Linked DNA regions of Homo sapiens: all the other regions are linked to region 2. Evidence: fine-mapped expression QTL. A gene starts in region 2. Each other region holds a variant in brackets. All regions are shown on one strand. Distances are between the middles of the regions.

Evidence for each region. PIP is the estimated chance that this variant, and not a neighbour inherited with it, causes the effect.
Region 1: its variant is the best candidate, but not a certain one, in a credible set for the expression of PARP8 in whole blood (TOPMed, PIP 0.60).
Region 3: its variant is the best candidate, but not a certain one, in a credible set for the expression of PARP8 in T cells (GENCORD, PIP 0.53).
Region 4: its variant is the best candidate, but not a certain one, in a credible set for the expression of PARP8 in whole blood (TOPMed, PIP 0.53).
Region 5: its variant is the best candidate, but not a certain one, in a credible set for the expression of PARP8 in whole blood (INTERVAL, PIP 0.61).
Region 6: its variant is the best candidate, but not a certain one, in a credible set for the expression of PARP8 in whole blood (INTERVAL, PIP 0.56).

Annotation. Positions count from the first base shown.
Region 1 is chr5:50,615,301-50,620,394 of GRCh38, forward strand. No RefSeq gene overlaps it. Among named protein-coding and RNA genes, the nearest start is that of PARP8, 49 kb to the right of the region's middle. The variant T/C (reference allele first, on the strand shown) is at 2,622.
Region 2 is chr5:50,663,758-50,668,851 of GRCh38, forward strand. It overlaps PARP8 (poly(ADP-ribose) polymerase family member 8), which reads left to right and starts at 2,880. Exons shown (of 26, transcript NM_024615.4): 1 at 2,880-3,429; 2 at 4,314-4,368. The coding sequence starts at 3,339. RefSeq lists silencers at 2,723-2,872, 2,923-2,982, 3,675-4,004 and enhancers at 3,155-4,067, 3,503-4,702.
Region 3 is chr5:50,738,739-50,743,832 of GRCh38, forward strand. The region is part of intron 2 of PARP8 (poly(ADP-ribose) polymerase family member 8); the gene reads left to right. Among named protein-coding and RNA genes, the nearest start is that of PARP8, 75 kb to the left of the region's middle. The variant GA/G (reference allele first, on the strand shown) is at 2,079.
Region 4 is chr5:50,635,093-50,640,186 of GRCh38, forward strand. No RefSeq gene overlaps it. Among named protein-coding and RNA genes, the nearest start is that of PARP8, 29 kb to the right of the region's middle. The variant T/C (reference allele first, on the strand shown) is at 2,642.
Region 5 is chr5:50,570,480-50,575,479 of GRCh38, forward strand. No RefSeq gene overlaps it. Among named protein-coding and RNA genes, the nearest start is that of PARP8, 94 kb to the right of the region's middle. The variant C/A (reference allele first, on the strand shown) is at 3,053.
Region 6 is chr5:50,553,717-50,558,810 of GRCh38, forward strand. No RefSeq gene overlaps it. Among named protein-coding and RNA genes, the nearest start is that of PARP8, 110 kb to the right of the region's middle. The variant C/T (reference allele first, on the strand shown) is at 2,706.

The DNA of each region.
Region 1 (5,094 bases), 48 kb before region 2:
GTGTTTTAGATATGAAGTCCTTGCCCATGCCTATGTCCTGAATGGTATTGCCTAGGTTTTCTTCTAGGGTTTTTATGGTTTTAGGTCTAACATTCAAGTCTTTAATCCATCTTGAATGAATTTTTGTATAAGGTGTAAGATCCAGTTTCAGCTTTCTACATATGGCTAGCCAGTTTTCCCAGCACCATTTATTAAATAGGGAATCCTTTCCCCATTGCTTGTTTTTGTCAGGTTTGTCAAAGATCAGATGGTTGTAGATGTGTGGTATTATTTCTGAGGTCTCTGTTCTGTTCCATTGATCTATATCTCTGTTTTGGTACCAGTACAATGCTGTTTTGGTTACTGTAGCCTTGTAGTATAGTTTGAAGTCAGGTAACATGATGCCTCCAGCTTTGTTCTTTTTGCTTAGGATTGACTTGGCAGTGCAGGCTCTTTTTTTGGTTCCATATGAACTTTAAAGTAGTTTTTTCTAATTCTGTGAAGAAAGTCATTGGTAGCTTCATGGGGATGGCATTGAATCTATAAATTACCTTGGGCAGTATGGCCATTTTCATGATATTGATTCTTCCTATCCATGAGCATGGAATGTTCTTCCATTTGTTTGTGTCCTCTTTCATTTCCTTGAGCAGTGGTTTGTATTTCTCCTTGAAGAGGTCCTTCACATCCCTTGTAAGTTGGATTCCTAGGTATTATTTCAAATATTATTTTAAAACAATGAGATATTGAAAAATACATTGGAGCAAATTCTTCACTCTTAAATCCTTTCAGCACAGAGACGATCAACTGACTGTCTGGGTGCTACATGAGCACTATTGGAGTCTCTTTCATCTGCCTGAGTCTGTGCAACAATATGAAATTATAATTTTACTATGCACCTAAAGTTTCCTCAATATATTGAATTATTACAGAATTTGATGAGTCAAATTTTGTAAATTCAGTTACCTTTTTCCACTACTCTAGGACTCATATACTATCTGGCCTAAGGGTTAAAGGTCCACAATTGAATGAGCCAAACTTGTTAATTTGAGGGTAAAGCATGTCAAGAAATCTGGCCTTAATGTCCAATGAACTTATATCATATTAAGTAGCTGGATAGAAACATGCATTCCAAAGTGGATACTATTTATCACGCTCAGTGCTCTATTCTTGAGAGTAAATCCCATGATAGGGTGGATGCTTTAATTGTGTAGTAAATAGTATTAGGTGTAATATCAAAACCACTAAGGGAACACTGATGATGTGAATAGGAACACTACCTGTGGATCTGGGAATTTTCTATAGAAATCCTATCTCTTTCAATTGCCTGTTTAGTGGGCAAGTTGTTTCAGTTCCTATAATATCTAAATTGGAGAAAATCACACCACCTACTTCTTCAGGTGTTATGATAATTATGAGTGATGACATCTTTTTAAGTGCTTAACACAATTCCTCACACATAGAAAGCAATAATAAACATTGGCTAGCATTGTAAGGATGTTTATTGTCTTCTAATGTGTTTTCATACGTTTTCTCTCTGGGATCTTGAGTGAAACATGTGGATCTAGAACAAGAACAAAATGATATTACCTTAATGATCTTTATGTATTTACACTCAAGGTGTCTTAAAATATTTTGCTGGCCAACAAAAGACACCTCCTATTCTAACTGGGCATTGTCCTTTTCTTTAAACTATGCAGACAAACAATATTATAAAGTGAGAACATCAGCATAAAAAACATAAACATAAATCTTAATAGTGAGTTCATGAAAATTCTTACTGACGAAATGGCAGTGTCACAGACTGAATGTTTATGTCCCCCCGAATTTGTATATTGAAATCCTAACCCCCAGGGTATTCGTGTTAGGAGGTAGAGCCTTGGGGAGGTGATTAGGTCATGAGGACAAGATTCTCGTGAATGGGATTTGTGCCCTTATAAAAGAGATCCCAGAGAGCTCATTGGCCCCTTCCAAAGTATGGGGATATAGCAGGAAGTTGCCATCTATGAGCCAGAAGGGTGGACCTCACCCCAGATGATAAATGTGCCTTGATATTGGACTTCCCAGCCTGCATAACTGTAAGAAATTTCTGTTGTTTATAAGTTACTCAGCTTATGGTATTTTGTTACAGTAGCCTACACAGACTAAGACGAGTAGCATTTTGAGGATTGAAATTTCTTCATAAATGAATACAGTATGCCCTGTTAAACCATATTCTCAGCTAACCCCATTTACTCACTGTTCCTCTTTATTTTAGTTTCACATTTTTGCTATTTATCTCTGTAATTTTATTCATTCTTCACAATTTGCCATTCTTATACTTCGAATCATGTTATCAGTTTAAAATACCTCCATCAAATGATAGTCTGCATTTGTTTATCCTTGGCTGATTCAAAACACTTGGCATAATTTCCTTTAAATCATCTTCCTCCCATCTCACAACACTGTATTATTTTCAATTAATTTCCAATAAACTCTTAATTGTCCATGCTCTGTCAGAGTTGGCAGAGTTAATCCCTGTTTAAGCTGATAGGTTCAACTTCTTCAACAAACAAATCTTTCATGAAAGCTGCTGACAAGCCAGAGTATTAATTAAATCTAGTTTTGTTGCTTCTCACTTTCCTTTATCTTTCTCTCTTGTTCTT[T/C]GGGAAACAGTCACAGAGTTCTGGTGCTAATAAATACTATAAAAAGTAGGGAATACAGTCTAACGAAGCAGAATATTCTCTTTAAAGTTGATGTGGTGCTTTTTGTGCACCAAGCATTGGCTCAAACGCCCAAAAATTAGGCAGCAAAACTTCCTAAGCTCATCTTCAACCATAAGGCAGAAAAGCCAAATGTATCTGAAAATATAATATCACTGGTACCTTATACCAGCACTAAGAATAAGAAAACCCTGGAAAGTGGCTCGAGTACAATATTTTTCTATTGGAATTAATTTTTCAAAATGGAAAGGACTTCATTGTTATTTTTATTATAAAATTAGTATATGTTTATTATTAAAAATAAGTACAAAAATATCTAAAAGAAAAAGGGAAAAACTACCAGCAGTTCCACATTCCAGAGATCATCACTGTTAGCATTTAGGTATACAAATATCCAAACACTTTTCCTATCAATACAATTAATTTTTAAATTTGATCATTATGCAATGTACACATGCACTAAAACATCACACTGCACCCCATAAACACGTGCAATTATTATGTCAATTAAAAACAAAATAAAAACATTTTACAAAAAATCATGTTATTTTTAATAACTTGTTTTTCTAATTGTATATATCACAAAATAAATGTCTTTACATGACATTTATTTTATGATAATAACTAATTTATTCATTTAAACAGCAAGGTACATTTCATTCTACAGATATACTATATAATATTTACTCTGATCTCTGGATGAGAATTTATGTTGCCTGTAAATATTGTATCACAAACATAAGAATATTCTCTAAAAGGTTTTTTTCCTGTATTATTATTCGGGTAGAAAAATTACTAGAAATAGAATAACTGGGTCAAAGATTAAAAACAATTTAAACTTCAATATATAGAATCAAATTATTCTCCAAAATGTCGTACTGTACGGTATTTGAATTTTGATTTTTTTCTCCATTTTCCCTACTGCCAATAACTTTAATCTTTGTCGATCGATGAGACAAAAAAGACAAATAATGCAATACTATACATAGGGAGATTAATAGGTAGAAAAAGAAATGCAAATGGCCAGGATTAACAGAAGATGTTCAACATCAATCCAATCAAAGTAATGAGTCTTTAAAATGCAATAGCAGTCAATGTTAGCAAGATTGTAGGTATTAGACATTCTCATAGGAATATAAACTAGGGCCATGTTTTAGGATCATATTAGGTCACAGCAATTAAAAAATGTTAAATTCATATGCTCTATAGCAACTTCGCGGGTTGGAATTTATCACATGGAGAATCTTGTAAAATACATAAACCAAGATATGTTATTAATGTTATTCGTAGCCTATTGTTTAAATAAAAAATATATTTACACAATACAGTTTTTAAAAGTAAGAATATCTTGAAGGTAAATTAGTAAACAAAAATAGAAAGCCTAGGCCAGGCGAGACTTTATCTCATGCTTGTAATCCCAACACTTTTGTAGACTGAGGCGGGAGGATTGCTTGAGCCCAGAAGTCTGAGACCAACCTGGACAACACAGTGAGACCTCGTCTCTAGAAAAAAAAAAAATACAAAGCGTAGTTCTGAACATCATTTTGTGTAATACTAAAAGATAAAATTTTATTTTCTAACTTGTTTAAGATCTATATTCTATGTGGGGGATGTGTATTAAGGTCATTTTTAAAAAGATACTCAAGAAATTGTCAACAGTGATTATCTTAAGGAGAGATTCTAGATGTCTGGGGGTAAGAAACTAGAGGAAGGAGAATTTTATATTTCATTTTTACCTTTATTTAATTTTTTGATTTTCTTACTGGGTGCATGAATTATATTTTATGTCAGCATGTTTTATCAGATAAATAAAATTATGAGCTATTTCTGTTTCCTCTCATTTGTTTTATGTTTAAATAAAGGAAAATGAGGTATGTCTTTTTAAAATTTGATAATCTTGAGTCCATGATTATTATGAAAGCCCTCTGTTATCTGTTTACTTCCTTTCACAATGACTGTTTATGTTGTAGAATCATTAATTTCTCAAGACAAATGTCTTAGAAGGTAGATACAAAACATGGTATACATTTTTTGATTCAAGCTAATTTCATGTTATGAACAAAATTACATAATGTAATTTCTAAGACCTTTCTGTGATCTATCAATCCACTAGGTTAAATAGCAGAAATCACTTCCAAAACAAATCCTTTTGCAGTCAGCAAAATGAAACAATTATGTGAATAAGTTTTTCCACTTGGCCTATTTTTCTGTCCATGGTTATTAATCAGTCTCACTGACTACATTTTCCATTTTACATCCCCTTTCAGGCACTACTCCAGGTGGCCAAGCATATCACATTATGTAAATTAAATAAAACAAAATCTTTTCCCATCGAGCAAATGGATATACTTCACCTCTAATGCTTCCAGTCTTTCTCAGATCATTCAAAAAGCGTGATATCGTTTCCATAAAAGGA
Region 2 (5,094 bases):
TGGGAAAGGAAGTTGAATGCAAGAAAGGGAAATATAACTGCCACTAGCAGAGGCTATTTTGAGAGTCCACAGGCTTCAGCCCTCCTCAAAATCCATCATAGGGCTTCTTGTCGGCTTCACTCCTGGCCTGCAGCCATTGGCGGGGCGGTTTACTTCCTCGTGTGGCTTCTGTACATATTTATTCCTTTAAGTTCAATTCAATTGCTGAAAGGTTTCAAGAGAGAAAAAAACTTCTTGTAGTCCATGTCTCACCTTAGATGAATTAACCCCTTTGAGCCTGTTTCCTCTTTTGTAAAATGAGAAAAATAACAGCTAGTATATACGGGTTATTGTGAATATTAAATGAGTAACTATATGTAAAGCTTTTAGAACAGTTTCTACCAGTTCTGGATAAATGTTAATGAATTCTGGATAAGTTCTGGATAAATATTAAGTTCTGGATAAATGTTAGTTATTAATACCCACATCACATTATTGAACTTAATGCCGCATGTCCATTACCTTATACTTCCGCAGTTGGGCCTTTTGGCACAGGCAAAAAATTTATATTTTTCACTAATAAATTATATCTGGTGGCTTTGAATCATTATTCTAAACCGGTGGAATTTTTTCAGTAGAGTCTATCATCCAACATGTAGATTATTATCTTCAATTTAGTTTGGGATACCACCTGAGTTCTCCCTCACTGTAAATATTGATTTTATTTATTTAACAAATTGGTGAAGGGCCTCTTATGTGCCACGTTCCTGAATGCATGTGTGTGTATGTTGTATACTCATGAGTGTTTAAGGAGAGATAGAACTGTTTCATCTCAAAGGCGCATATAGTTTTTGATAAGGGAAGTATGTTGAGCACACATAATATAAACATTTAAATATTCGGAGATGGGGCAAGGTAAAGAAAGGATCCTGGATATGGGCTGACTTACTTTGAGCAAAGTGCTCCATAAGGATCTAGCCTGGAAGATCCTTGGAAGGATCTACGTTGGTATAGTTTTTAATTAGAGAAATTTATCTTGCAGAAATACATACTAGATAGGTTTTTATTTTTTAATCTTACTCCTTCAAATGTACAAATATTTATTAAATACATCACACCTTAAGGGCATGAACAGGGTGAGGTTAGCTTTGTTTAACCAAAACAGGGCAGCCCATGAAGCTTAAAAAAAAATCAAATATAGGACAAGTCACAAGAAGGCCTATTTTAAGGAGTGAGTAGTAAACTAAGAGCTCATCCAGACAAAAAAATATTTGGTAGCTTTAAAACTATTTCACATTTATTTGTAGTAAGGGTTCTACTTGGAAGATGCAAGCCTTGTGGCTAGATAACTATAAAATAAATTCTTGTGAGTTAATAGACTTTCAGCCTTTCAGAGAAATTAAAGCACATAATGGAAGAAGAAATACTCATGATTCTCAGTGGTGATGTGGAAGAGAAGAGAGCATTTTTGGCAGCCAAAGGGCCTACACAAAGCAACATATCCAGGAAGGACAAAGGGCTTGAACCTGTCCTACCCTAAACAGGAAGCATTTCAGGAGAGGACTGAGCAGGAGATATAGACTGTTGTGACTGTGGCTTTACTACATCAAAGGCTGCAGTGGATCTCAATAATGCAGAATGTTTCCTTTTGTAACTCATAGTGAATATGACTGGACAAGGAAATTATTTTGTAATTTGTTTCCTGAAAGATAAAGGAGTTAGAACATAGGATCTTTCATTGATTCTACAGAATCTTAAGACTCCTTCAGGGATGGCAGTCATTCCTACCGTGCTGAACATCATGTTGTCACGGTCAGAATCAGAACTAAATTGATTAAGGGTCTGAAACAGTTTGGCAACTCTTGGGCACTTATGCTGATAAGAAAAGTGATGAGACAGGGTAATGAAAAGAGGCTGCAAGAAATGACCATTCGTGCATTCAGCCAACATTTAGGCCACCCTCCTGTATTCCAGGCACTGTACATGGCACTGAGTATGCAAAGCAAAAGGAGTCATGGTCTACTGGCGGGAGCCTTCTCAGTGGAGAAAAGATCAACAAGAAAAGTGCCTGCTGGAGACCTCTCCTAGGGCATAAACCAATATAGAGGTGGGGCAGCTACGTCAGCCTGGGGTGTCCTTAGGCAGAACAGAAAGTGAGAATCAGAGCAGTATCTCATTTCTGAACACCTGGATTGTAGCTTTCCCTTGACTGTCAAAGGAGGTGGTTTTAAAAATCAAGCCAAACAGGTTTCCATCTTTTAGGAAGACCCTGGAACGTGCCAGTTGATTCTGACCATTTCTCATGAACAGAAACACCTAGGAAGGGAGAACTGGTGAGTTTCAAGAGGAGGAAGTCCCTCAAAAGGGGCTGTGTTTCGTAAACGGCGCCCCAAAAGGGCTGAACTACTTCGATCTGGAGGAAAAAGACTCAGGCACTGAGGGAAGGGGAGGGTGCACGTCTGGAGTAATTTTAAGGCCTTTTCCGTGTTATGTGATGTGGCAATAAGGAAAGATTTGTTCGTTTTATTATTTTTTTAATTTTTAAAGATTTTCTTTTCCCCCCTTTTCCCCCTCCCAGCCACTCCGGTTTGGGTTTGCCACAAGACTATAATTCCTTTAGAAAGTGGAGTCGAATTCATAAAAGTGATGGGGGGAGGGGCGCGGAGAGGGAAGGCTGGGAGCCCCAGGGAGTCTTCACGACCGCTCAGCTCCCGGCGCGAGTGGAGGTCGGTGTGGGGAGAAGCGGCTCCCGCCCGGGATGGCTAATACTCTGCGAGCCCCGGCAGCCCGCGGCCGGCGGGGTGACTAGGCGGCGGGCGCGGAGGGTCTGCGGCGGGCGGGCGGCGCTGCAGCAGCCTGGGCACGGCTGCCGCCGCCCGCGGGCGCGAGTGTGCGCGGGTGTGGAAGGCCGGCGTGCGAGCCGTGAGGGGTGTGCGCGCGTGAGCCGGAGCGGGGCTCGCCCCTCGCCGGCGCCCGCCGCCCAGCCGGTGATTGCTCTCTGGCTGTCCCCGGCACCTCGGCCCCCACGGCCGTTGGTCCGGGCGGGTGAGGGAGAAAGTGAGACTTGGTGTCATCACCATCCATTGTCAGAAGGGGAGGAAATTGGAATCCAGCAGCGGCGAGCAGCAGCTGGGCGGTCACATCTGGGAATGCAAAGCCGACCTCCCCCTCCTCCTCCTCCTCCCCCTCCTCCTCCTCCTCTTCTCTCACCCAGGATCACTTCCGAAACCACTTCGCCTTCAGCCCCTGCCTCGGCCAGAGGTTTCATTTTTAACTGAATATTTACGAAAGCTGGAAGCGTGCGAGGGGGGTGGGGTGGGGTGGAAATAGCGGCTGCTTCTTTTCCAGGGATTTATTTAATGGGGATGTGTTCAAGGCAAGAGCGAATTCAGAAGGATATCGACGTCGTGATCCAGAAGTCCAGAGCTGAGAAGGACTGCCTGTTTGCAGGTGAGTTCTTGCTTTTCCAGAACCTCGGACCCAGCGCCCCCTTCCCAGTTTTCTGACCGCGACGTCTGTGGCTGGGGGTGGGGTGGAGGGTTGCACGTCCCCATTCTGGGGTTCATTTGGCAACAGCTGCTGCAACGAGCGCGGGAGCCAAAAGGGGGAGGGGGCGCCAGCCTCTCCCCTTCCCCTCCCCCACCGCCAAGTCTGAGGCAGCCACCAGCTTTGAGGGCAGAGCCCGCGTGGCCGGAGCGGGGGTCTAGGCGAAGGGGCAGTGCGTGGTATTTCCAGCCCCGCGTAGTGCCCGAAGCCTCCAAGCACGCTTCCTGGGTTCCAGCAGCGGCGGCAGAGCGGGGTTGGTTTGCGCAATGGGCTGAGCGGCGGCGGCCGGGAATGGAGCCTGCTGCGCTGCGCTGCGCTTGTAAGCTGCGCCCGGCGCCGAGGACCCCCGGGGGGCAGCGCTCGGCCCATCTCCGGCCCCTTCGGCTCCCTCTAGTCCCCTCCGACTGGCAAAGAGAAGGGATTCCTCGGATTCCCAAGGCACCCAGCGCCCCTGCCTGGGGGTCGCCTTTCGTCCATTTTGCTCCCCCGGGATTTTGCTTTCGCTACCGCGAGCCCGGCTGAGGCTGCTTCCGGCCTCCCCTATCGGGAAATTCCCGCTGTTGCCATGGCACCCGGCACTTGTTGCGGGGGGCGGCCTCCCGCTGCACCCAGTCGGGGGCGCGCCGCATCCCCTCGGACGCGGCGCAGAGGGACCTCGCCGCCCTCTAGCCCTTGCCTTCTGCCCGGCCAGGCCTCCCCTGACACCACCGAATGTGGGGCTCAAGTCCTGATCGGGGTTAAAACAAATCCACTCCAGGGGTAGCTTTTGACGGGACTTTCTGTTTCAGATTTCAGATACTCTGACTCCACCTTTACTTTTACCTACGTTGGCGGCCCCAGAAGGTATTTATGTGTATAGAGTTGCTTCATTTCCTGTTCACACTCTTGTGTTTCCTTTGTTCTTAGCGTGTTCCGTGTTCGGGTATTTTGGTTGCTTGTTTGTTTGATTATTGTGGCTTTTCTTTACCTGCTACCCAAGCCTGACGTCCCTCGGTTTTAAATAGCAGGAGGAGGGGAATCAATGTTTGATTCAGGTGTTTCGAGGACCACGCCACAGGCAATGAGCAGAACTCTTCATGTTGAAACTGTTCTGCTACAGTACTAGATTGCTCTCAGGCGATTTGGGGTTGATACAGGCACGCCGGTGCAAAACTGGAATACTGGATATGAAGTGAAATGTATAAAAGACATAAAATGTCACAAAATAGTTTGATCAGAAGTGTTGATTTTCCTGGTGAGTTGGGGCTGCGTGTTTCCATGTTTTCTGAAGGTTTACATAAACATGCAGCCTGCCAATTCTCTGTACATTTTTTTTTCAATGAGTGGTATTTCGGTTTTCACGTATAGAAATTGGAGACTTATATGTAGCTGGAGTGGATGACTTCTTTCTTTTGGGGGAAGAATGAGAGATGCACATTTCGTTAGTAAATTGTGAACAACTTGAAACAAACCCAAATCCAATTTTGAATTTAGGAAGTAGAGTTAAAATGAAAGGTAGCCATTCAAATACTATGCCTTGCTACCTTCACTTGTTGAGTTAGGATTTTCTTCCTTTTAGCCCTTTAGGGA
Region 3 (5,094 bases), 75 kb after region 2:
AGCAAAAAAACCTCATAATGTTTTAAGAAAGTTTACAAACTTGTGTTGAGTTGCATTCAAAGCCATCCTGGACTGCATGTGGGCCACGGCTTGGACGAGCTTGGCTTAAACAGTAAAAAGGATAGTTATTTGTTCATGTAATAAAAAATTTATTATTGATAATGAGACGTAGGCTTAGTTTACATCAGGGCTCTGCCTCTGTCTCTGACATTTTCTAAGCTCCACATTTTTCTGTATCAAGCACATTCCTAGACTGGCTTCCCAGTGGGTGTGAGAAGGCTAACCAGCAGAGACCAGAGCTGTCTGCTTCCTCATTCACATCTAGGAGGAGCAAGAGACTTCCCACAGGTATTGAATCAAAGTCCCAAGCTCTACTCTGAATGGAGCACCCTGAACCAACAACCATTGAGGCCAAAGTGTAGGACACAGGCTAGGTAACTCCTTTCCTTCCATTGCAGGGGGATCTGTTATCCTGATGGCTTATCCAGTCATTCAGTCTTCCTCTCCACCTGGGAGAAGGGATTCTCCTCATGAAAACCTTAGGGCTTCCATATGAAGAAGGAGAGGAATGAGTGGAATGGATATTGAGGAGGCCTTTGGATGTCCATTACAGATTTATTCTGCTTTTACTCATTCGTTAATTTTTTTTGTGGGGGGATGGGGGTGGGGAGGGAGTTGAGAAATCATTTTTTTGATCATCTCCTCTCGCTACATCAGCTGCATTCTTCCATATTTCATCTTCCTTGTAATCCTCTTCACAACACTAGGGGAGTAGATATTATTAATCCAAATAAGCAGAAAGGAGTTAGCCAATTTAATTTTCTGAGGTTTATATTGTAAAGGCAAAATTTAATTCAAGCCTATCATATACTAAAGTCTGTGCTCTTTCTCCTGGTTATAAAATAATTCTTATTTACACAATAATTTTGTAAGGAAGGTTATTCAGACTTGGAAGATCAATGGGTATATACATATATATATATATATATATATATTTTTTTTTTTTTTTTTTTTTGAGACGGAGTCTTGCTCTGTCACCCACGCTGGAGTGAGGTGGCACGATCTTGGATCTCTGATCTCGGCTCACTGCAACCTCCACCTCCGAGGTTCAAGCAATTCTCTGCCTCAGCCTCCCGAGTAGCTGGGATTACAGGCACCCACCACCACGCCTGGCTAATATTTTGGTATTTTTAGTAGAGACGGGGTTTCACCATCTTGGCCAGGCTGGTCTTGAACTCCTGACCTCATGATCCACCCACCTTGGCCTCCCAAAGTGCTGGGATTACAGGCATGAGCTACTGCGCCCGGCCTGGGTTTATATATTTTTAGTAAGCATTCATTCTACGTATATTTATAATGTTCCCACTATGTGCTAGGTAGATGGTAGGTGCTGGAAATACAATGGGAAGAAAACAGGTGCCTTCTACTCTATGGATTTAGCAGGGGAAGCAAATATTAATAAGTCATACAATCAGCCATATTTACAAACTGTGTAACTGCTCCGTAGTAAGATCTGATCAAGTCTGGGAAAGGTCATCAAAGTTTTTTCTTAGGAGATGACATCTGAATTGAGAACTGAAGGATGAGACTGAGTTAACCAGGTCAAAAGGAGGAGGGGAGAGAGAATTCCAGGCAGAGGGAACACAACATGCTCAAGAACTGAAAGGAGTCTTTTTTGTTGGAGCATAGAGAGAACAGTGGAGCATAGAGAGAACAGTTGGAGCACAGTGAGGCAAGACAAAGATGAGACGCATAGATAGGGAAGGTCTTGCGGGGGCTTTAGGTGCTATTAAAATTATGTTTGAGCATGGCATGGCGGCTCATGTCTGTAATCCCAGCATTTTAGGAGGTGCTTGAGGCCAAGAGTTTGGGACCAGCCTGACCAACATACTGAGACCTCATCTCTACACTAAATTTTTTCAAACTTAGCAAGGCATGGTGACTTGGGTCTGTAGTTCTAGCTACTTGGGAGGCTGAGGTGGGAGGATTACTTGTTGCCAGGAAGTCGAGGCTGCAGTGAACCGTGATTGTGCCACTGCTCTCCAGCCTGGGCAATAGAGTGAGACCTTTTCTCAAAA[GA/G]AAAAAAAAAAAAAGATTATATATTTGATATTCCACAAGAAATTAACTTGGAAAGAACTTATTTTATTTGCCTTAAATATTTAAGATGCTGAGGGTTGTATCATACTATCGAAGTTCTTTCTAAATATTTGTAGTGTTTGTTCCCTTTCCATGACAAAGCCTTAATTGAGCTATAGAGTTATTCAGTCGTATTTAGTTTTTCCGTCTTGGTATGCTGTGCAGATCATTTATAGCCTCTTTAAACTTTTTATGACCACTTAAAACTTGAACTTAGATATAAAACAGTGAAGGTAAAAACATCTACATGTTAGTGAATATTTATCAAAAGAATACTGAATTAGTTATAGTTACAAAGTGTTCAGTAAAGAAAAGCTCAGATATTAAACTTTCGGGATGCAATATGGAAATAATATTTATATAATTAATTTAATCGAGGTGTTAGTGTTTGATGACATGCTCTATCTACTATTCATATTTTATTGGAATTGTATTGTTGTCCTTTTATTTGTAGTCATGAGTAAAGAAAAAGAGAGAAGCACAGCTTTATTTAAATATGTTGTTGTCTTTTGCATGGAACTAAGGTAGTGTAAAAAAACCATTTTCTCACTTGCTTTTAAAAATACCATTATAAAGCTTGCATCAATGTTACTAATCAATGTCAGACTTAGTTCTCTCAGGTTCCTCCCTGTTGAGAAAATAGCTTACTTAGAAGTCCAGACATTTAACTTACAGTGTAATATTTAAGCGTAGAAGTTGCTGACTTGGCCACTTCCCTAAAAATCAAACAAACAAAAACATTACTTTTGATCCTGTTACTTCACGTGCTGAAAGTATAACTTAAAAAATTACCAAAATAAGTTTTGAAAATAGGAAAATATATTATTGAGAAACTAACTTAATGTTTGTTGGGCAAGAGTCTTCATCCTTTTACCTTAGTAAAGGGTAATACGTAATTTATTTCATAGGTGAGAAAGATGTGTTTTCTTTTCTTTTCTTCTTTTTTTTTTTTTTAGGTAGAATTTCATTCTTGTTGCCCAGGCCGGGTGCAATAGCGCGATCTCAGCTCACTGCAACCTCCGCCTCCCAGGTTCAAGTGATTCTCCTGCCTCAGCCTTCTACTAGCTGGCATTACAGGTGCACACAACCACGCCTGGCTAATTTTTTCTGTTTTTAGTAGAGACAGGGTTTTGCCATATTGGCCAGGCTGGTCTCGAACTCTTGAACTCAGGTGATCCGCCCGCTTTGGCCTCCCAAAGTACCGGGATTACAGGCGTGAGCCACCGCCCCTGGCCGCATTTTATTTTCTAGAAGGAGAACTTAGTGTTCTTGTCTTCATGTTGAGTGGTTCCGAATAAGGGAGGGGGCAGATATTGTGTGCAGTAGTTCATATAATCCTATTTTTGGCAGTTTGGCTTAAAAACAAATACATTTGTTTATTTTAAATAATGCTACCATTAATATCTTTGTGGCTAGTTTTTTTCCCCACTCACATAGTTACATATGTTTGATAGATTTCAAATTGTGAAATTGTTAGATTAAATTAATAGAACAAAGCCCCAAATGGAGTGTGGGTTTATGAGTTCTGTGCAGCAAGTAGATGGATTAATCTTAGATTACAAGGACAGATAATTCCTTCTTCCTGGGTACAAGGAGAGGAGTATGAGCTTGTAGGTGGTTGGTGGGAGACAGAATAAAGGGAATGCCTTGAGGAAGTAACCATATGATAATCTCTCTTAATGTGGAAAGAAAGCATTTTGATGAGAGTGAAAGGGTAGGTTGTTATACGGTGTTTGGAAAGCTGTGAAAATTTGCAAAAACAACTAGGAAGAAAAAGTAAGGGGGTTTATGAAGAATGGGTTTCTCAGGTTACTGAGCAGAGTTGTTAATAGATAATATTGAGAACCACATGTCTGTAGGGCACCAGGCCCCTTAGTTTCATTGTCCTTTCCAGCAGCATTCAGAGCCCAGGTCCAGGAGCTGAGCATGGCAAATATGACCTAATCTGCAGTTTGGAGCTGGTAGGATCAGGTAGTCTGCAGGGGCAAGGTAGGCGCTGCACATTGAAGGAGTCGAAGATGCTGTGGAGAGAGCAGTTAGGTATCTAAAATCATGGGAAGATGAAAATGAAGCTCAGAGGGACTGGTAAAGACACAGAGTGAATGCATTGTTTAAGGATGTTAGAAGTAAGAGGAAAGGAGTGAGAGCTGGGAAAATTATAAAATTGTGGTTAGAAAGTGGGACATGGGGGTTTGAGATTTTAGAAGGGGAGCCATTCACTCCAAATCAAGCTTCAAGGTATAGCCATTTGGAGATTTGGTGAGCTAGTGGTAGGGAAAACGAGGCCATGGAACTACGTGCAGCTTAACGTTGTCCAAATGGATGGGAGTGATGTCAAGATTTTTGGTAAAGAGGAAAAGAAGGTCCTAGAGCTCCCCAACCCTGGATAAATGACAAAAAGATTGTAGCTCATAGTGGTGAAGAATGAGGATGCTGTAGCTGATTGACCTGCACAATTTGAAAATGTTTTTAGAGGGTGAAATGATGATGAACATGAAAGTGAATGTTTTGGGAACTGAATGGCATTAAAGTAGCAAAGGTGAGCTTCTAGTATGCCCCAAATTACCTTCTAGCTTGAGACACTAGAGTTGGGTCTGGAGGTGGGTAGTGGGACAGCATCTCTTTCACTCTGCAGCACTTGAAGAGTAAAGAAGACAGAATTAATAAGTGCTGGAGTGAATTTTCTTCTAGAAAGCTCCAGTGTGTCTGGGGGTGAGATGTGGTCTCAGGTTTCAACTGCTGACTTGCAAGTGAACAAAGACTGAGACCTAACCAGGCACGATGGCTCAAATCTGTAATCCCAGAGGTTTGGGAGGCTTGAGGCCATTGCATTCCAGCCTAGGTGACAAAGTGAAACCTTGTCTCCAAAACATAAATAAATAAATAAATAAATAAAATTAAAAATTAATTGATTAAATAAAATTGAGATCTGTACTCCTAAGCATCTTCGCTAGGGTA
Region 4 (5,094 bases), 29 kb before region 2:
ATGAGTTCTACAGCATGGTTTGGGGTACATTTCCTGGCTGCCTAGCTTTGATCTGGCTTTCTAGCCTTCTCAACAGTTCTACAAGTTCCCCACTATTTCTGTGGTAAACCTATTTATTGTTAATGTCAGCCATAATTGGCTTCTGTGGTTTATATTTTTTAAAATTCCAAGATATACAAATGTAACAGATAGCTCAACAAACATATGTCTTTTTAAATTAAGATATATTCTGTGTCACATGAAGTACAATGGACAAAATTCAACAAATTGAATTGCGCTAAAGACCAAAGATATATTAAGCCTGGCTAGTCTTAAAAATGTAACTGGATACAGCCAGGCATGGTGGCTCATGCCTATAATCCCAGCACTTTGGGATCCTGAGGCGGGCAGATCACCTGAAGTCAGGAGTTTGAGACCAGCCTGGCCAGCATGGTGAAACCCCATCTCTACTAAAAATACAAAAATTAGCTGGGCGTGGTGGTATGCCCCTGTAATCCCAGCTACTCAGGAGGCTGAGGCAGGAGAATAACTTGAACCTGGGAGGCAGAGGTTGCAGTGAGCCGAGATCATGCCAATGCACTCCAGCCTTGGCAACAGAGGGAGAATTTGTTTCAAAATAAAAAAATAAAAATGTAACTGGATAGACCTCAGGTTCTTGAATAAGCAGAAAATAATTTAGGTAAAAACCAAATAATAAACCAACATTCTAAGAGGTTTAGTATTTGGAGGCCCAAATGTCTTAGCTAAAAGTGTTCATTCTAAACTCACAGGAAAAGTGAAATATGAAAATATATAGAAAAATCTTAGGCAGTATTTTTCAATTTTAAGCAACAACTATTTACAGGTTTTTCAATAGGCATTACATTAAAAATGAAATATATAGTTAATAAATATGAAAACTGTGGATATAATCAACACATTTATTTTACTTCTTGAAGTGTTAACATGTGCTGTCTCAAATATCAACAGTGTACACGTGGGAAAAAACATTTTACATAGATTTTCTGCTACAGAAAACAGCCTCTCATTAGATATCCCAAGTTTTTTCATTTGGAACACACGCCCATTCCCCAGTATACTAGGGGTAATAATAATTTATAAAGTTTAATTACTTTTTACTACTAGAAAACTAATTTTATGTTTGGCACAAATTTCTGAAATGACATTCCACTGCAAAGAATAATACCTATATATGGCCAGAATTACTTTTTTTCTGTAACATTAAGATAATACTGGTCAGCCTGAGCAACAAAGTGAGACCTCATCTCTACAAAAAATAAATAAATTAGATGGGTGTGGTGGTGATGAGGGTCTGTAGTCCCAGATACTCAAGAGGCTGAGGTGGGAGGATCCCTTGAGCCTAGGAGGTCGCAGTTGCAGTGAACTATGATCACACCACTGCCCTCCAGCCTGGGTAACAGAGCAAGATCCTGTCTCCAAAAAAAAAAAAAAAAAAAAAAAAGATAATATTGGTATAATTCAGGGTTTTTGCCTCAATCCCCATGCTTCTTCATTTGACCCTCCCTGACTCCCTGATGAATTTTAGTTTGAAGTTTTGCTCTAGTCCAGAAGTTAATTTAAAACATCTTAATAAAATTTCCACCTGCCTAGATATTTCTTGTTTGTTACACTTTAGTCCATGATTTCTACTGCCATTTACATTACCCCAAAAATATGACCTGCTGAATTTCTGCTGTCATGAATTGACTAACATATTTTGGGCCTAAAACCTTTACATTTAGAATCTTTTTGTTTGGTATTTGAAAATAATGTATGTCCTCCATTTATTGGTCAAAAGCAGTGCCTATTTATTTCTACGTTTAATCAGAGAGACTTTGTAATAGTTATTTAATATTATTTATGTTCATTCATTTGTTGTATATAATGAGGTTAATTGCTATGATATTTTTATGTCGTTAATATAATAAAAAATATGTCATCTTTTCTCTTCCAATGAGTCTTTGGGTTATTAATTTTTAACTCAGGTATCAAGCTTGTAAAATGTTTAATGGCTTATAATAATGTCTAACACATAGTATCCACTGAGTTCTGGTAACTCCAGTTTATCAAATTCTCTTTTTTTATACCATTCTCCAAATGCAATGCTATTTGGTTTTATTTTTATTTTTTAAAAATGTGCTGCCTGATTTGAGTCTCTAAAAGTGTGAAATGTTCAGTATTTTCCAAATGTATTTGAACATGGAGTGTTATATTTACTAAAAAGTTAACAAGCAAGTATTCCCCTAAACACTCTAGCAAATACTACTAGTACAGACAAATTACGATCTAACATTATAGTACATTTTAATTTATTAGGTTAATTTTGGTTGCAAACAATAAAAAGCAAAATTCAAACTGGCTTGTATAATAGATTTTGAACAATAGTATAGGCTCAAGATAGTTTAATGCAGAAGTTCAATAATGACACAAAATAAATGTTTCTTGTCTTCCCTGTTTCTTCACTCTACCTTAAGTGGTATAGATTGAATGTATCCCCCCAAAATTTGTATATTTAAATCTAATCCCTAGTGTGATGATGATATTTGGCAGTGGGTCTTCGGGGGGTGATTAGGTCATGAGGACAGAGCCCTCATGAATGGGATTATTGCTCTTATAAAAGAGACCTTAGAGAACTTCCTTG[T/C]CCCTTCCACCATGTGAGGACACAGCAAAAAGACAGCGGTCTATGAAACAGGAAACAAGTCCTCACTAGACCCTGAATCTGTTGACAACTAGATCTTGGACTTCCTGGCCTCTAGAACTGTAAGAAATAAATTTATGTTGTTCATAAACCATCCAGGCTGTGATATTCTGGTATAGCAATCTGAAAGGACTAAGACATTAGGTCTCAGTTTTATTCTATGGCTTAAAATATCATGTCATGAGTAGACAACTTCCAATCCTAGTACCTTGTGCTTCCTCTGCTGCATTTGGAAAGAAGGCATTTCCCCCTTCAATCGTGGAATGAAAAAGGTGTACTTCATTCTGATTTGATTAGCAGAAGGCATATGCTCTTTCATGCACCAATTACAATGACCAAGAATTGGGCATGGGACTCATGTCACTTAAACATTGTGAAGCTGAGAAATTCATTATTTGGTTAGGAGTGTGTGAGATCAGGGAACACTGAATGCTTGAGGTACCACCACGATGTCCACTGCAGGTATTTCCATTTCAGTAAACATTTCCATTAAGATAATGCTAGAACAAAATCAGAGGAGTAGATCTTGGTGTCCCCAACTTTTGTTGACCTAACAAAGTGAAGTTGCTTCAACTGGACACTTCTGAACCACATTTATGCCCATATGTTCAGTCCAAATTTATTATAAGCAATTTTCAGGTCCATATGTTTAGGATATTTCATTTGTTTGGTTATGCATTATATGTATACATGTTTTTAACATACACACACCTCTACATATATTTTGCAGGCCTTTACACAAAAGTGTTTTCCCTAAAGGGAGAAGAGAAAAGTTGAATGCAGAAGTAAAAAAAAAAAAATTCATTTGCATTTGTAGTATTTGTATCTAAATATTTTATATTACAGACGTATTAAGATTTTTATCATTTTAAACACTACTTTAAAACAGGGAGATGGTTTACCTTCAAAAAATTTAGCTCTCAACTCAAAGTTATCAAAGTATATCCTAGATGTAGTTTGCTTGTCAGGCTTCTACATGAAAATTTAAAAGGCTCCTGCATTTCAGAATGAGCCTAACATATGTAATTGCACTCATCCACTATGTCTACATTGCCAACCAAATACTGACAGAGAGAGCTATAGAGTGCCATAGAGAGCTGGCAGCTTTTCTGTTTGCATTAGCTTCTACTTTCTTCTTCATCTTTCCTCTATGTCTGACACATTTCATGTTACTGTTTTTAAATGTTCCCTTAACTACAGAGCTAATGTGCTTATATCTGTCAGGGGTCTCATGTGAACCTCTAAATATTTAAAGATTCATTAGCTCCCTGGAGGGCCACCATGATTTCCAAAACAAGTCACAATACCTAAAGATCTAATTGTACAATTTCCCTCAGAAATAGCCTTGAGGAAGAAGTCACATCACTCAGCAATGAGTATTACAATTATTCACAGCAGTTTTCATGGTACTATATAACATCCAATTTACAGAATTAAAGGTAATGTAATTTGAAAGAAAAATACCTGGTTTTAAGGAATGAATGGCCATGTCAACTATTGGAAGCATCTTTGAATTGGAGCCTCTATGTTCAGGTTTCACCAGGTTTATGTTTTTAATTAATATCCTATTCAGCTTTCTGTAATTTCCACTGAGGTTTTCTAGAACAAGACAAGTCAGAAATTGATCTTTAATTATAAGCTAAGAGCAAACTGCCAAAGAACTGAGACAAATTTTGAAGAAAGAGGTCTATCAGGACTAACTATTTTAAGAGAATAAAGACTAATCAGACACACACACATATGCACAAAAAGAGGGAGAGAGAGCACAAAAATCCTACGAAATACATTTTAAAAAATTAATTTTTTTAAGAAGAAGCATTTGATCTGCCAAAGGGAAAACTTAGCAGTTTGGAGATCTGACAGTGCTAATCTCAGGGCAAGAAAATAACAAAATAAGACACCAAAGAATTACCTAAACTGTGAAAGATGAAGTTTTCAGAGTTCTAACAGAGAATTGGGATACTAAAGTACAAAGTTTAAGAGGTGTAATATATTAATGTTTAATTTATATCCCAAATACTTAAAAACTATGTTTCATTGTTATACATATTTATTTTATTATAAAGATAATGAATGCAGTAGGGTTAGATTTAAATAACTCATTGGTTTTAAAATGAGAAACGAAGGTCTGGCTTTTTACTACCTACAGTCTTACCATCAAAGTTAGCTATTGTTAATAATTTCTTGTCCATTCTTGTATGTGTTATGGTTTCTTTCTTAGAAAGAAGTACACTATACTAGTATACATACTATTTATTCGTGAACTTTGCATTTGTCATGTAATCATATGTCTTAGTGGTCATTTCATAATAGATGTCTCTCTTTCCCATGCTGTCAGTGGTGACTGCATGAGGCATTGTACAGACGTACCAGTAATTACTTACTCTGTGTCATAT
Region 5 (5,000 bases), 93 kb before region 2:
ACAGTAGACACAAACAAAATTAAATATCTAGGAATTAACCAAAGAAATAAAAGATCTTTACAATGAAATTATAAAACACTAATGAAAAAAATTGAGGAGGACACACAAAAATGGAAAGATATTCCATTTTTTTGTAGATTCATTTCATTGAATCTACAGATTCATTGAAACCCCTGTCACAATACCAATGACATTCTTTACAGAAATAGAAAAAGCAATCCTAAAATTTATATGGAATCACAGATGACACAGAGTAGTCAAAGCTATCCACAGCAAAAAGAACAAAACTGGAGGAATCACAGTACCTGACTTCAAATTATACTACAGAGGTATGTTAACCAAAACAGCATGGTACAGGCATAAAAATAGACACATAGGCCAATGGAACAGAATAGAAAACCCAGAAACAAATCCACACACTTACAGTGAATTTATTTTTGACAAAGGTGCCAAGAACACACACTGGGGAAAAGACAGTCTCTTCAGTAAATGGTGTTGGGAAAACTGGATATTCATATGCAGAAGAATGAAACTAGGCCTCTATCTCTTGCCATATACAAAAATCAAATCAAAATGGATTAAAGACTTAAATCTATGAAACTACTATAAGAAAACTTTGGGGAAACTCTTTAGGACATTGGTCTGGGCAAAATTTTCTTGAGTAATACCCCACAAGCACAGGCAACCAAAGCAAAAATGAACAAATGGGATCACATCAAGTTAAAAAGCTTCTGCACACAAAAGTATACAATCAACAAAGTGAAAAGACAACCCACAGAATGGGAGAAAATATTTGCAAACTACCCATTTGACAAGGGATTAATAACCATAACATATAAGGAGCCCAAACAACTGTATAAGAAAAAAAACTAATAATTCAATTAAAATATGGGCAAAAGATTTGAATAGACATTTCTCAAAAGAATGTCTGAAATATCTGAATACAGGCATATATTGAGATGTTCAACATCACTAACAATCAGGGATGTTCAAATCAAAACTGCAATGAGACATCATCTCACTCCAGTTAAAATGGCTTTTATTCAAATGTCAGGCAATCACAAATGCTGGCGAGGATATGGAGAAAAGGGAACCCTCATACACTTTTTGTGGGAATGTAAACTAGTGCAACCACTATGAAGAACAGTTTGGGGGTTCCTCAAATAACAAAAATAGAGCCACCATATGATCCAGCAATCTCACTTCTGGGTATGTACCCAAAAGAAAGGAAATCAGTATATTGAAGAGCTACCTGCACTCCTATGTTTGTTACAGCACTGTTTACAATAACCAAGATGTGAAAGCAACCTAAATGTCTACCAACAGATGAATGGATAATGAAAATGTGGTACATATACACAATGGAGTACTGTTCAGTCATAACAAAGAATGAGATCCTGTCATTTGCAACAACACGGTTGGAACTGTAGGTCGTTATGTTAAGTGAAATAAGCCAGGCACAGAAGGACTAAGATCACATGTTCTTATTTATTTGTGGGATCTAAAAATGAAAACAATTGAACTCATGGAGATAGAGAATAGAAGGATGGTTACCAGAGGCTGGTAAAGGTAGTTGGGGAATTGTGGGGAAGTTGAAGGTGAAGTGAGGATGTTTAATGTGTACAAAGAAAATAGAATAAGCTATATTTGACAACACAACAGGGGAAATATAGTCAATGATAAAATCAACTGTGTATTTTAAAATAACTGAAAGAGTATAATTGGATTGTTTGTAACACAAAGGATAAATGCTTGAGAAGATGAATACCTAATTTATGACTTGATTGTTTTGTATTGGATGCCTGTACCAAAATATCTCATGTAGCCCATAAATATACACACCTACTACGTACCCACATAAATTAAAAATAAAAAAACACAATTTGTAAAGTCTTCTTCTTTTTAGTTTGAGACAATGAGAACAGTGGACCCCACTCAATTAAAAACCCATTGCATTAATAATCCCATTACAACCCTGAATCCCTTTTCAAAATTGGCATTTTCTCAGTATTTATGTCTTCTTCATCTGTGTTCTTTTAAAGTTTTAAATGCATGTAGTGTTGCATTACCCTGTGATGTTTTCTTTGGAGCCTCTCTAAAATATAGCTATTATATTATGATTTACTGGGAATAGATAGGAAACTACATACTAAAATCATTTGAGGGCTTTGAAAAATATTGTTGCTTGGGCACAATTAAATCAGAATCTCTGGAATAGAACCCAGATGTGAGTATATTTTTAAAAGTCAGGATTGAGAGCTGCTACTTTAGATCATACGCTGCTTCAAGATAGGAAATTTTCCTTCTCTTTTCCCTGGGAAAACAAAGCAAACTAAAAAAAAAAAAGGGAAATTAGGGCATTGGTCTATCCACAAGGAGCCGTAGCAAGGTTTGGAGGCCTGGAAACTAGAAAGCTCCCAAGAGGCGAATCTGGAAGTCATAGAATCAGAGGACATAATTCAACTGAGGATATCTACTCAGCTATTATACTAGGTGCTGTATTTGTAGTCTTCATTTCAGCTGAGAGTCCTAAGCCCGTGAAAAGTAACTCTTGCTCAAAATTAATTATTTAGTTAAGATCAATTAGTTGTATTTCTCTAGTCTACTCAGAAGGCAGTGGGAAAAGGGCAGAGTCAGGCATGCCTTAATTGTAGCTACATCTCACTCAGTCTCCCATGTAGCACCTGGATTTTTCAGGTCTCAACATAACTTTATTTCATATTTAGTAGATGTAAAGATGTTCTTTTCAGATTCATTTAATAAAAGGCCCAGAGGCCGGGCGCGGTGGCTCACGCCTGTAATCCCAGCACTTTGGGAGGCCGAGGCGGGCGGATCACGAGGTCAGGAGATCGAGACCATCCCGGCTAAAACGGTGAAACCCCGTCTCTACTAAAACTACAAAAAATAGCCGGGCGTAGTGGCGGGCGCCTGTAGTCCTAGCTACTTGGGAGGCTGAGGCAGGAGAATGGCGTGAACCCGGGAGGCGGAGCTTGCAGTGAGCCGAGATCCCGCCACTGCACTCCAGCCTGGGCGACAGAGCGAGACTCCGTCT[C/A]AAAAAAAAAATAAATAAATAAAAGGCCCAGAATTTCTAGCTAAACACCTGCCATAGGAGGCCCCAGGCACAGAAGGAGCATCGTAGGATAGCCTGTGGCTCAGAACTGTGGTTCAGAACTTGAGGCTAGGAACCAGAGGCTTACTCGTCCTAATGAGTAAAAATCATCTTGATTTTTAACTTGTCACCAACAAATCTGTGCCTTGATCTCCTCATAGGTCAAAAGGATATTGGATCAAGTGTCGTACATACCTCAAAGGATTTTGTGAAATGAGACAAGATAGAGCTAAGTACTTCAAAAACTGTAAAGAACTATTCAAACGAAAATTATTTTTATCACTACCATTATTTATAAATGATGGATTCAGCCCAGTTCTATTTGTTGCCAACTTTTGTGATAGAATGGAGCATGGAAAGTAAAAATGAAAAAAAACTCAGTATATTTAATGATATAAACCAAAAAAAAAAAAAAAGAAAAAAGATTTTCTTAAAAAGAAAAAACATACTAAATATTTGTGATGATAATGAAAATTTGGTGGTGGGAGAGAAAAAAATGTTGTTGTTTTATTTTGCTATATTTATGATGTCTCAGTATTCTTTCTACTTGTTCTCCCTTTAGCAATCCAAGCGTTGTTAGGGAAGAAATGGCCGACTTTAAATTCAAGTTGAATTCTCTAAACTCCAGAAGGAAGTATTGTCACTTCCGAAGCCAAAATAAAAATTTTGTCTTTATTCTTATTATATTCTCCAGGGAAATTTCAGCTCCTCAATGCAGTCCCCAGAGACATGCTGCTGAAAGGCTCTTTGGATATGCTGCTGAAAGGCTCTTTAGCTACTCTGAAGAAAAAGATCTCAAACTTCCCCTGAGATCCACTATAATTGCTGGTTTTAGATATTTATACATAGAAAGTCTTTCTTCTCAAAATAACTTTTCAGAGAAGTATTTTCCAAAACTATCATTAATATTAAAATTCCATGATAAAGGAGTTAACCTCATATCAAACCAGGAAGGTTGTAAACACGTTTTATGAATACCTAAGGAATCCATTGCAAATAAGAAAATGAAAGTACACAAAAGAAAGTGTTTTAAGCCATCAGGAAGAATTGTGTTCCATTTAGCTCTTGCCATGGTTACTCTTCTATTTTGTTTTCCTTCAGTGTTTATAAAATTAGTCAATGCTATTTTATTTTATTTTTATGATTACCTTTGGATGTATCATTATAAATAACCAATAAATTTTTTCCTTCTGAAAGGTAAACTTGCACATTATTGTGTATGCAGTTAGCATTCAAAGAATACTTACAAATTATCTACTAATCTGAGTGATATGAAATTTCCATTTTCATGAATTGAATGTAATTTTATCAACAATCTCACATGCCAAAGCTCATATCTAATTCTTGGCAGTCACCTTTTCTAAATCAACTAGCTTATATTTTATTTGTGAATATCTTTTAAAAATTCAGGTTTGTCTGTTCATGTCACAAAAGTTTAGCGAAATTTTTTCTCTTCTTAGTGTAAACATTTGCTCTTTATGACAAGTAAATCATATTTCTTCATAGTATAATTATTTCAAGTATTTAAAAAATATTTTCCTTTATAAGTTGTGTGTGTGTGTGTGTGTGTGTGTGTGTGTGTGACAGAGTCTCACTCTGTCACCCAGGCTGGAGTACAGTGGCATGATCTCTGCTCACTGCAACCTCCACCTCCCAGGTTCAAGTGATTCCCCTGCTTCAGTCTCTTGAGTCGCTGGAATTATAGGTGCCTGCCACCATGCCCAGTGAATTTTTGTATTTTTAGTAGATACGAAGTTTCGCCATGTTGGCCAGTCTGGTCTCAAACTCCTGACCTCAAGTGATCCACCCACCTCAGCCTCCCAGAGTACTGGGATTATAGGTGTGCACCACAACACCCAGCCTCTTATAAGTCTTAACACACTTTTCTGTA
Region 6 (5,094 bases), 110 kb before region 2:
TCAGCCTTGTCCTGACTGCGGGGCAAGGGAGCTGGGTATTTAAATCCTGTCGAGTGCTGCTCCTGAAGGGTGAAAATTTCCTCATACTTCCAGCCTGCTACTGGCAACAGCAGAGTGGCCTCAGGCTGCCAGAGAAAACACTCAGACAAAGACACATAAATGCTGTCCTTAGAAGTCTACTGGTGTGGACTGCAATACTAAGAGCTTAGGTGACACGGGCAGAGTGCAGAGTCGGCTACAATAGGCTTCATAAATAGTTCTCAGTACACTGCACTACATTCTGATCATCCCAAAGACTGAAGTACTCTATAATCTTGTTTTAATTATGATATTTCTGAGTAAAGTGTTTAATTGTTGGTAGTGTCTTTTGAAATAATATAAATAATAAAATTATAATAGGAGTGGGCTGCTATAATTATAGCAATGAGCAGCATTGCTAAATTTATACAGAAACAGGTAGCCCCTAAAAATATTTTGGGAAAGGAATTACAAAACTATTTAAAGGGTGGCTCTAAAACATGAATTATAAAAATCTTTCCAGGTACATATGAATGCAATTTTTAAAATAATTTGGCCAAGAGTGAGCCACTTCTTTTGTTCTATTTTCTTTTTCATCTCACATGTTAGAATTGACCAAACTTGGTCTCCAAGAGAATGCAAACAAAACAAAACAAAACAAAACGAACATATTGGTCCTAAGGATATAAAATGATCTGAAGTGGAAGAATGTCAGAATAAAGACGCTGGTCATCTTGTGGTGTTTTCATGTAAATGTGATGGATATTTTATAGAACTTGGAATTATTGTACTGGAGTTACTCTAAAGCACTTTACATGACACCATTAACTTTCCACACAAAAATAAACTGCCATAAGGGATTGATTTAATGCCTATGAATGAGGATTGCTATCCCTTCATTTTTATGAATAATAAATGAAAATAATATATAAAATTTATGTTGTAATTTTCAACAAAATAGAATATTTTACATATACTTATTTTCTCACAATATCTTTAGATAATATTGCTTCCATTCTAAAGGATTTGGAAACAAGACTATAATGTCAAAAAAAAAGTCTGTTAAAAAGAATTTAAGAATCTCTAAATTTAAACATGCACTTCCACAACGGAAATGAGTGCTGTAAACAACAACCTGTCATTGCAGTGCTTTCACATTAATTGCCGCAACTAATTCTCAAAATATTCCATTTTAAAGGTAGGAAACTATGTCTAACATCAAACATCTGGTTATGGCCTCTCCCTCATTCAAAAGAAAGAAAAAGCCATTAGATAGGAGTTACCTAAATTTCCCACAAATAAATCCAGCAATCTTGTCTCCTTCTACAGTCCTCTTCTCCCTCTTCAAAGTAAAATAAAGAAACTAAGCCTCTTCCTGTGGAAGGCCAATGTCTTCACTGGTACTTCAGATCAACTTCTCTTTTGTCTTCTCAGAAGCCCGACATTATCAATTACCCTTATTCCTTGCCCCAACCACATCAGCTTTTAAATATCTCCATGGCTTCTCAGTATTTCAATTCAAGCAGAATAAAACAAACACAAACAAAAACTACAAAAAATAAAGGCCCAAAACAGAAAACCTCACCCCTTAAAATTCTTCTACCCCTACCTCTTCACAGCCAAATTTCTTGAACCAGTGGCCAATATTGAGTCTCCATTTCATCCCCACCCACTTCCTTCTCTATCCCCATTCTCTCCCCTGTTAAGTTTGTAACCCATCAAATTTTTCAACCTCATTTTAATTAATCTCTTTATAACTTTTTTTTTTTTTTTTTTTTTTTTGCAGACAGAGTTTTGCGCAAGCTGGAATGCAATGGCATGGACTTGGCTCACTGCAACCTCCACCTCCCAGGTTCAAGCTATGCTCCTGCCTCAGATTCCCAAATAGCTGGGATTACAGGCACGTAACACCACGCCCGGCTAATTTTTGTATTTTTATTAGAGACGGGGTTTCACCATGTTGGACAGGCTGGTCTCAAACTCCTGACCTCATGATCCACCCTCCTCAGCCACCCAAAGTGCTGGGATTACAGGCGTGAGCCACCGTGCCCGGCTCCTTGTAACTTTTGTACCTGTGGACCGCTCCTTTCTTCCCCTGGCTTCATTGTTTTCTGTTCATTCCTTGTCTTCTTCTTGTATTCTGGCTGTAACTACTCAATTTCTTTCTCAAATGTATCCTCTTATACCTACATATTAAATACTTCAAGAGCAGGTATTTCTTTCTCCTCTATATGCTTTCTCTCAGCAATTTATTAAGGCCAAAGGCTTCAATTACTATCTCCATGTATTGACTCCCAAATTTACACCTTCAGGATAGATATCTTTTTGCTTTAAATTAACATATCCTTTTTTTCTTCTATATATCTCCACTTAACCTGTCCCAAAGTCATCCTTTAACTCTAAATAAATAAACAACAAAAAGCAAAAGCTGAACTTACCATCTTGTCCTCTTTCGGGATTCACTAGCTTAGTAATTGGCACCACCATCCCTCCAATTTCACAAGCCAGGAACCTAAGAGTCTCTTTTCACCCACCCCTTGTACTTTCTTTCAGCTCTCATACCGAATCTTTTCCCCAACTCTATTAACTATGCCTCCTAAATGTATTCCAAATCCATTTATCTCTCCATTTCCAATGCCATCACCCTAGTCAAAGTAATATAGTGATGTAAAAGTAACTGCAGTTTT[C/T]GCCATTAATAGTACGGCAGAAACGGCAATCACTTTTGCACCAACTTAATACTATTTTCCACCCTGCCAATTGACAACCCCTCTGATGCCTCTAGTCTGATACACTGACAGCTGACAACTCCTCTATTCTGATACAAAAATCTTTTCAGCATATGACCATGCTCTTCTCCTCCTTAAAACCCTTTAATATTTACCTATGAGTTTTAGGATAAAATCCCTTGATGTGGGCTACCAGACCCTGCAAGCTCTTCTCCCTGCTTGGTTAATCATCAGGTTTCACTCAACCCTTCACACTGAGCTCCAGCCTCTCTGGACTTTCAGCTTCTTGAATACTTTATGTTCTGTTGCCCCAGGTCCTGGGCACTGGCATTTATCTCACCTTAGGACACCTCTCCTTGCCTAGGTCTTCCCACTCATTCTTCAAACCTCAGTTCATACCATTAGTTCCTCAGAAAACTCATACCTGCTCATTCACATCTACTCTCACATTCTTAAAATGCTCACCCTTCCATTATCTCAAGATTGTTAATTACATGCTTATTTTTATAATTATTTTATTAACATTTGTCTTCTCCCATTAGACTATGAGTTCAATGAAAGTAGGAAACATGACTGATTTTATTCTCCATGGCCCTTGTGGTATACTAACAATTCCAGCAGTTACTCACTATTTGCTAAATATATAAATAATCATGCCTGGGTCTTGACTTTAATGTGAAACTCTGACTGTTATGTTGTCTGCAGAGACTTCTCCATTGCAGAGAAACCCATCATGTTTAATAGATCCATTTGCATTTCTGTAAACCACATACAATGTATTAACAGTCGTATTTAACAACAAAAATAGACTTACTTTGAAAGCTTAATCCTAAAACCTCAGCTCCTCATGAAATTCTGCCATGTCAAAGAAAAGTATCTACTTTACTATATGTATGTTATTATTGATCCTTTCTTTCACTTGCCAGTTGAACATACTCATGGAAAACACTTATTTTCCCAAAGCAAAATAGAAGATTGTACCTGGGAATCTTGTAACTAAGAATAGATGTTCGAGTAATTCAGTTAATAGTGATTCTTCAGTTGTGGAGACATTTGTTATGTGGGGCACTGTCAGAACTTCTAGTCTATAGCCACACCACCCCAAACACGCCCAGTCTCATCTGACATGACTTACAGTGAGAGTGAGTTTTGTAGACAATGCATTGGGAGGAATAAAAAACTGTCAGTTGTCTGTTTTTTTAAACTCTGAACATTCTAGATGGCTTTCTAAATGGCTACATTGAGAAAGCAACCTTAGATTTGAGAAAGCTCTAGTTTGAGCAAAAAAAAAATATTACCTTTCTCTCTCTCTCTCATCATGGTAGTGGCTATCTTAGATTTGATCTGACATCTAATACAGTACTTTACCAAATGACTTTACCTTTACTTATTAAATGTTGCTGCAGTGACACAATTCAGCTGCACCCTTCACCATGCATAAAAAAATAATCCTGAGCCTCACTTTACTTGATCACTGACCACTCTGGAGACTTCCCACAATAGTCCAAATCTCAGTTATTCTTTATCTTGTGCCCTTGAATGCCAAAATGTAAATCAAGCTCACATATATTATCCTGTCTCACTTATAGCTGCTTTACAAGCACAGCATGAAGTCATTGTTCAGCACGGTTTACAGGTACAAACACAACTGAAATCAGTACTGGTTAATTTTCTGAGGGTAAGAAGAATATTGAACACGTGAATTGCTACTGAGTATTTTTGCATGCTAAAATATCACTGCTGTTTTTCATGATATTTTATTCCATACCAAATAAGAATGAAATGCAAGTCTATCTTTTACAGTTTTATACAAAGAAGCAGAGGTCTTATGATAATAAGTTGATGGTTTCTAGCAACCTGACATGTATTTTCTGTATTTTTCCCTTAAATGTTTTGGGGGTTTTGGAATTTTCTACCTAGAAATAGTCTATAAGTGAGAAATGAATTTGTTCCAAGTTGTAGGATTCTGTTTTGTTCTCACTAATGTTTAATTGTAATATTAGAACTTGGTCAGAAACGGTAATATATTATATTTCTTCACAAGTATTGGCTGTTGCTAAACTTGGAAATAAACATAAACTAATATATTAATAAAATATACAGTCTGAAGAGCTTGTTAAATTTTAATAATACTATCATTTATACAGAAAACACAAATATATAAACATTATGCTGTATGATTTACTTAGTAATATAATAAACTAGAAAAATATTTACAAATATTAATATTTACAATAAGGCTAGAAATGAGAATTTTTAACAGGCCAAATTTCCACAAAGCTTTTATTACTCTTACTGAAAAAGAATGACAATTAACTTTTACAAATGTAATCACTTAAGCCAAACATGC